Linked DNA regions of Homo sapiens. The protein of the gene in region 2 purifies or fractionates together with the protein of the main gene of each other region. This does not show direct contact. Each region holds a gene or a part of one and is shown on either strand. Other genes may lie near its edges.

Region 1 (3,749 bases), on a different chromosome or scaffold from region 2:
TACATATAGTTCTTTTTTAAAGAATATTCATGTCATTGAGCCTTTATGTAGATTAAGTATATTAAAATGTATGTATGTATTTTTAATTTTTTTGAGATAGGGTCTTGTTCTGTCACCCAATCTGGAGTGCAGTGGTACAAACACAACTCACTGCAGCCTCCACCTTCCAGGCTCAGCGATCCTCCATCCTTAGCCTCCTAACTGGGACCACAGGCATGTATCACCAGGCCCAGCAAAATTTTTATTTATTTTTTTGTAGAGACGAGGTCTTGCCATGTAGCCTAGGCTGGTCTCGAAATCTTGGGCTTAAGCAATCCTCCGACCTTGGCCTCCCAAAGTGGTGGGATTAGAGGCATGAGCCACTGTGCCCAGCTTAAAATATGTTTTTATGAATTGGTAGCATGTGTCTTACATACCCTTAATTTAACAAGATGTCACAACATATGTCTAAAATAGCTTGTTGGTAACTTTTTTTTTTTGAGATGGAGTTTGGCTCTTGTTGCCCAGGCTAGAGTGCAATGGCGCAATTTCGGCTCACTGCAACCTCAGCCTCCTGAGTAGCTGGGATTACAGGCATGCACCACCAAGCCCAGCTAATTTTGTATTTTTAGTAGAGATGGGGTTTCTCCATGTTGGTCAGGCTGCTCTCAAACTCCCAACCTCAGGTGATCTGCCTGCCTCAGCCTCCCAAAGTGCTGGGGTTACAGGCGTGAGCCACCGTGCCCAGCTGATAGTAACAATTTTTTTTTTTTTTTTTTAATACGAGTCTCACTGTGTCACCCAGTCTGGAGTGCAGTGGCATGATCTCAGCTCACTGCAACCTCCACCTCCTGAGTTCAAGCAATTCTCTGCCTCAGCCTCCCGAGTGGCTGGGATTACAGGTGCCTGCCACCACGCCCGGCTAATTTTTTTGTATTTTTAGTAGAGGTGGGGTTTCACCATCTTGGCCAGGCTGGTCTTGAACTCCTGACCTCGAGATCCACCCACCTCAGCCTTCCTAAGTGCTGGGATTGCAGGCGTGAGCCACCATGCCCGGTGTAATTTTTTTTTTTTAAAACTTCATTTTTTGGTATTCCAGCATCTTATGTTACATTTAGTTGTCATGTTTCTTTTATCTGCTTTAATCTGGACCAGTTCTTCAGTTTTTTCTTGACTTTTGGGACTTGACATTTTAAATTATTTGTTATAAAGTACATATATTAATATTTATGTACTTATTAATTGTATATTATATATAATTATTTGTCCCTAATCTCTTTTTTTTGGAGATGGAGTGTTGCTCTGTCGCCCAGGCTGGAGTGCAGTGGCGCGATCTCGGCTCACTGCACCCTCCGCTTCCCGGGTTCAAGCAATTCTCCTGCGTCAGCCTCCCAAGTAGCTGGGACCACAGGCACATGCCACCACGCCTGGCTAATTTTTTGTATTTTTAGTAGAATGGCGTTTCACTGTGTTAGCCAGGATGGTCTTGATCTCTTGACCTTGTGACCTGCCTGCCTCGGCCTCCCAAAGTGCTGGGATTATAGGTGTGAGCCACCATGCCTGGCCCCTAATCTGTTATAGTGATTTGCCCACTTTAAGTTTTTGGTGACTCACCTTTAAATGTATCCAAAACCTCAGTGAAGTTTTAAAGAAAGAGCTGTTTACTTTGTACTCATATTCTCACTTTACATAAAGAAAAAAATATATAGTGGGGAGAAAACACAACAGCCTCTGTAGGCATAAACAATAGGTAGGTAAAATTGCGAGGAGTGTAGCCTGCTGTTTTTGGAAGTCCAGTCGTGCTGTGGGTTTTAGTTGTGATACTTTGTGGAAGGAGTGGAAAAGTTGGGTTAATCCAGGCAGTTCTTTATATGGTTAGTATAGTCTGAACTGATAGTTAACACCTCCTTTCTTGAAATAAAATGAGTTTTCTCTTGAGTTTATGAAACCAACCTCAGCAGATGCCCTTTTTGAAGGTGCCTCCAGTGAGAGAATTTATTCATTTTTTGTCATGCTTGAAGTTCATTATTTTCCAGTATTCCAGCCACACTTTTGGTTATCAGAATGACCACTTGTAAAGATGAAGCCTTTCCTTTGGACAGAGATGATTTTATGGCGCTGATTTTGTTATGTAAATAGCCTTTTTTTTGAGACAGCCCCACTCTGTTGCCAGGCTGGAGTGCAATGGTGCGATCTTGGCTCACTGCAACTTCTGCCTCCTGGGTTCAAGCGATTCTCCTACCTCAGCCTCCCATGTAGCTGAGATTACAGGCGCCCGCCACTGCTCCCGGCTAATTTTTGTATTTTAGTAGAGACAGGGTTTCACCATGTTGGTCAGGCTGTTCTCGAACTCCTGACCTCAGGTGATCCGCCCACCTGAGCCTCCCAAAGTGCTGGGATTACAGGCGTGAGCCACCGCGCCCGGTGTAAATAGGCTTTTGCCTCTTGGTATAATCCTAAATTAATTTTTCCACAGTGTATTTTTAAAACCTGCAGTATGAAAAATAAAATGTCTTTTTGGTGGTTTTATTATGCTTTATTACAGTTCATTTATGTGATACATATCCTACATACTTATCAAACTTAAGTTTTTAGACTTTTCTAACTTATGTCAGTGGTATCTTGGCCGTAGCAACTGCTGTGGAGAAGGGGAAGCTCTTAGATAGTTTCAGTGCAAACTAAATGTTTTCTCTTTTCCAGGTTGTAATGCATTTAATAAAGTCTACAAAACATTATATTTTGAATTTAATATAGGTAGCTTACTTTATTACTGGTTCTGAGTAGCATCATGGTGTCAGAAAGGGAACCATTAGTGTTCAGATACACCTGGAAAAAAACAAAGTATGTAGGACTTAAGAAATACTGTAAGCTGCCAGGCGCAGTGGCTTACGCCTGTAATCCCAGCACTTTGGGAGGCCGAGGTGGACGGATCACGAGGTCAGGAGATCGAGACCATCCATCCTGGCTAACACGGTGAAACCACATCTCTACTAAAAAATATAAAAAATTAGCTGGGCGTGGTGGCGGGCGCCTGTAGTGCCAGCTACTCGGGGGGCTGAGGCAGGAGAATGGCGTGAACCTGGGAGGCAGAGCTTGCAGTGAGCCAAGATTGCACCACTGCACTCCAGCCTGGACGACAGAGCGAGACTCCGTCTCAAAGAAAAAAAAAAAAAAAAAGAAATATTGTAAGCTGTAATGCTAGTTAATAACACAACAGTCTGAATTGTTTAGGACTGTAAAAGTTGAAACATTAATTTAGGAAAACTGACTCTTCAAGGTTTATACTCTTCTTTTAGCATGTGTTCAGATAGCCTGGGGATGAATTAAGTAATTGCTGCAGAAAAGTTAAATTTTACCTAGGGAATTTGTTAACTCTTTTATGGTTTCAGATACCACTGAGTCCCAAATTCCTTATGTGTAGAATTAAAGGGTTTAATTATCCAAGATGTTAAAAGTCATTCTGATTATCCAAGATTTTTTGAGACAGAGTCTCGCTGTGTCACCAGGTTGGAGTGCAGTGACACAATCTCAGCTCACTGCAACCTCCCCATCCTGGGTTCAAGTGATTCTCCTGCCTCAGCCTCCCCCAGTAGCTGGGACTACAGGCGTGTGCCATCACGCCTGGCTAATTTTTGTATTTTCAGTAGAGACGGGGTTTCACGATGTTGCCCAGGATGGTCTCCATCTCTTGACTTCATGAGCTGCCCACCTCGGCCTCCCAAAGTGCTGGGATTACAGGTGTGAGCCACCGCGCCCGGCCAATCTAAGAT
Region 2 (3,749 bases):
TCCAGTGTGTGTCGAGCAAAAGTGCTTTGAAGCCAGCCAAAATCAACCCACAGATAATAAAGGAAACTTTGGAAATGTTGCCGCTCATTTGGACTTTTCTTTTCCCCTCTGACAATAGTCCACATGCTATGAATAAAATACATTAGACCATTGCGAGACCTGCCTCGGTCCATCCAATCCATGCGCCTCCCAATGCATTGAGATCTGCCGGGTGACATATGAGATCTAAAGTGGGTGGATAAAAATAACCTGGTCCTCAAAAAGACATGATAAACGCCAGACAGCTGAGTCACTTTGAAGCCCATTTTGACTTTTGAAAGGGACATTCACCCTCCTGCTGCTTCTCACACATTCACATAGAACCAGGTGAAAACCACCACCAACCGCCCCGGGTGGAAGGCGGCGATCCCTCTCAGCTTCCTCCTCATTCTCCGAGGTCACGACTCGGGATTGAACTTTTAATAATTTATACTTGCGCATGTCAGTCCAAGTGACTCATTTAGAAGGGCAAGGTGGGGAAGGCTTAAGAAAACCATCGCAATCCAGTAGATCCCCTATTTCTGCTGCCCGAGTGGAGGCACCGGAAGGTTTCGTCTGACATTTTTTTTTTTTTTTTTTTGAGACGGAGTCTCGCTCTGTCGCCCAGGCTGGAGGGCAGTGGCGCGATCTCGGCCCACTACAGCCTCCTCCTTCCCGGTTCAAGCGATTCTCAAGCCTCAGCCTCCCGAGTAGCTGGGACTACAGGCTCCCGCCACCGCGCCCGGCTAATTTTGGGGTTCTTTTTTAGTAGAGATGGGGTTTCGCCATATTAGCCAGGCTGGTCTCGAACTCCTGACCTCAAACGATCCGCCCGCCTCCGCCTCTTAAAAAGTGCTAGGATTTCAGACGTGAGCCACCGCGCCTGGCCCTGACATTCTAAAGACAAGAAAAGGAGTGGGGTGAAATGGGAACTGGTGGAAGAAAAGCTCAGAGAGCAAATCAGAATTGTCCAGAAGTGGGGATCCCTGAGCAAAGCAAGTGGTCCCAGAAAAAGAAGGGCTGTGTGTGTCCCGGGGTGTGGGGGGATCATCCCGTCCACCTACCCGCCCTGCGCTCTGCCCCGCGGAGGACGCAAACGATCTGCAACGTGCAGTTCGGAACAGGGAACTCTTGTATTTCATCTATCTTTAAACGGCGGCGGGGCTGTGTGCAAGCTGCTGGGAATCGGGCCCTTCCAGCCTGGGGAGGCTGGCGGAGCAAAACCACCAGCACGAGCCAGTCCTCGGCTGCAGCAGCCCTGGGGCGCTCACTAAGTGTCTGCCGAACTGCAGTGTTCCTGAGCCAACTCTGCCGCCCGGAGGAAGAGAAGAGGTCCCGGCCGCCACTGCGCATCTTCTCCCCCGGCTTCACGTGCCGCAGGCCGCCGGCCCCGCGACCCTCCCCCGAGGCGCCTCACTTACGGGAGAGTCGTAGGAGAAGGCGCACTCGTTCTTGTAGACCCTGTCGCCGGACCTGGGCACGCGGATCGTGGGCATGTGGGGCACTAGCAGCTCGCCGATGTCTCCTGCAGCCATCTTCCTGCCTCCGCTGCCGCCCGGCATGCCGAACAGGGCGCCCCGGCGCTGCATGGCCTCGGCGCGCACCGGAGCCGAGCGAGCCGAGCCGGAGCCGGAGCGCGGGGTCTGCCGGCGGCGGCGGCGCCAGCGAGCGGGCTGACGGGCGGGCTGCGCGGGCAACGGCAGCCGGCCGAGCCGGGGCGGGCGGGGAGAGCGGGCTGCGGGGCGGGAGCGGGCACCGCGGGCTTGGGGCGGACTGGCGACGCTATTTTTAATCCAATGGCGAGTCTCCGGCCCAGCTGCAGCGTCAGGCGGGGCTGGGGAGCGCCAGCCGCAGCGTGCCGGGGAGGGGGCGCTGGAGAGGGGCCCTGCGCGTGGGCCGGGCGCGGCGGCGGGGGGCGGAGGGCGAACCCCTGAGGCGTTGGCGCGGGAGCTCGAGCGGGCTGGCGGCCGAACGCGGCGCGGGAGGGCCCCGGGAAAACACCACGGAGGTGTTTTCTATCCCGAATTGTTGGCTTGCAGAGGGGCAACTCCGAGGAGGCCAACACAAAGAGCAGGATTGGGGGTTTTAAAAACCGCTTGCTTTTAAAACAGCCGAAGACTAGGGCGGTGACGTCCCCGGATTGGATAGGGGCGGGACTCGATGTGCAAATCTGAAATCTAACGTGAGGCTTAAATCTAAATTTGCGCCATGCACTTCAGTGCTTCCCCACTAAGCTTCGTTCCTTACTTTAACATCCAAGGCTCAAAAATAGAGCGAATAGAATAAGATCGAGTGAGGATAGAGGGTGTGTGTGTGGGGGAGGGCGGGGTGTGTGTGGGAGTGTGTGTGTAATAATAATACAGGTTTTCTTACATATTGGGGGAAGTCAGGGATGGTCAAGATTTTTTCAGGGCGTCGGAAGGCTTTCTATTTTTCTCTGCCTTTGGAGTATCTTCTATGTGATTCAAAGTTCTCATGTCGAACATTCAGTGGCCTGATTTGAGGATTTTGTAGGCAGGCATACATATTCCTGTCTTGATCATCAGTTCCTCAAAATAAATGATGAATGGGGTTGGCCTCGGGGGTTGATCATTTGCAAGCAGAGCATGTCTCCCAGCATACTCTCATTCTCTCCAAAAAACCCACAAGACGGGTTCAATGACATTGAGGTTCTCTAACTACACCCAACATATGTATTCATGACAGAGTATCCAGTGATCCCTGCCAGTTAATGAAATGCAGAAATAGCGAGAAATAGTGAACCAAAACGCTAATTTTTGTAAGCCTCTCTCAGATCAGATAGTCCTTAAGTTCTTTTTTTTTTCTTACTTTTTTTCTCTTTTAACTCTCCCTGGTTCTCCAGACCTATCTCAAGATTTCCATACCCTCAAGCAAGCCTCGAGCGCACCACACTTTCTTATAACTCAGCACTCCCAAATGCTATCTGTTGGAAAAGGAGGAGGTGGCACTGAGCAAAAAATCAGACACTACTGTCATCTTCCTCATTGGGCAGATCCTCTCAGCGAGCTTTTGCTTTGAATTTAGTCTCATCAGCTTATTACCTTTCACGTTAATGGATGATGTTTTCTCCAATTACAGAGATAAACTTGGTTTTACAAAACTTAAAATTTAATCTTAGATTAAATACAAATTAAATCAGTGAGACACTGTTTTTCATCCTTTGGGCTGGTAAAGATATATTGAGTTAGCATGGGTTTGGGAAGTAGACCCTCATTACATTGTTGGTGGGGATAAAAACGATAAACCTCTTTGGAAGGAAATGTAATAATACCAGTCATAACTTTATATGTGCATACTGTTTTCCCCAGCATTTCCTTGTCTAGACATTTATGCAACAGATAAATTAAGGCTGTGTAAAGATATTTGTTAGAGCACTGTTTCGAGTAACAAACGTCTGGGGAAAACCTAAAGATCCTTCTGTAGAAAGTGGTTAAAATACAGTACCATTGAAAAGAATGAAGTTGCTCTACGTGTGCTGATGTGGAACAATCTCCAAATTATTACTAGATGATAAAAGCAATTTAAGCAAACTAGTGTATAAAAGCAAGGAATACATGCAAGGCTGATAATATGCAGTAGGCATTTTGGCACATCCTATATACCATGGGCCTTCATTCCAGTTGGTTGTACTTGTAGTAAATATTTTTAATGTAGCCCCTTAAAATATACATATGTGTATGCATGCCCACTTGTTTGGCTTTAGGATGTCT

Evidence for each region. Proteins that work in one complex are often made in the same cells at the same time.
Region 1: the proteins of USP13 (region 2) and SMC3 purify together in Homo sapiens (affinity purification with mass spectrometry; 4 studies listed by BioGRID and IntAct, with this or other methods). This does not show direct contact.

Annotation. Positions count from the first base shown.
Region 1 is NC_000010.11:110,584,551-110,588,299, forward strand, and holds part of SMC3 (structural maintenance of chromosomes protein 3), read left to right. Parts: intron 1-3,749. UniProt on the Homo sapiens protein: Central component of cohesin, a complex required for chromosome cohesion during the cell cycle. The cohesin complex may form a large proteinaceous ring within which sister chromatids can be trapped.
Region 2 is NC_000003.12:179,651,084-179,654,832, reverse strand, and holds the start of USP13 (ubiquitin carboxyl-terminal hydrolase 13), read right to left. Parts: upstream 1,794-3,749; 5' UTR 1,608-1,793; coding exon 1,440-1,607; intron 1,176-1,439; exon of another isoform or gene 1,161-1,175; coding exon of another isoform or gene 1,083-1,160; intron 1-1,082. UniProt on the Homo sapiens protein: Deubiquitinase that mediates deubiquitination of target proteins such as BECN1, MITF, SKP2 and USP10 and is involved in various processes such as autophagy, endoplasmic reticulum-associated degradation (ERAD), cell cycle progression or DNA damage response.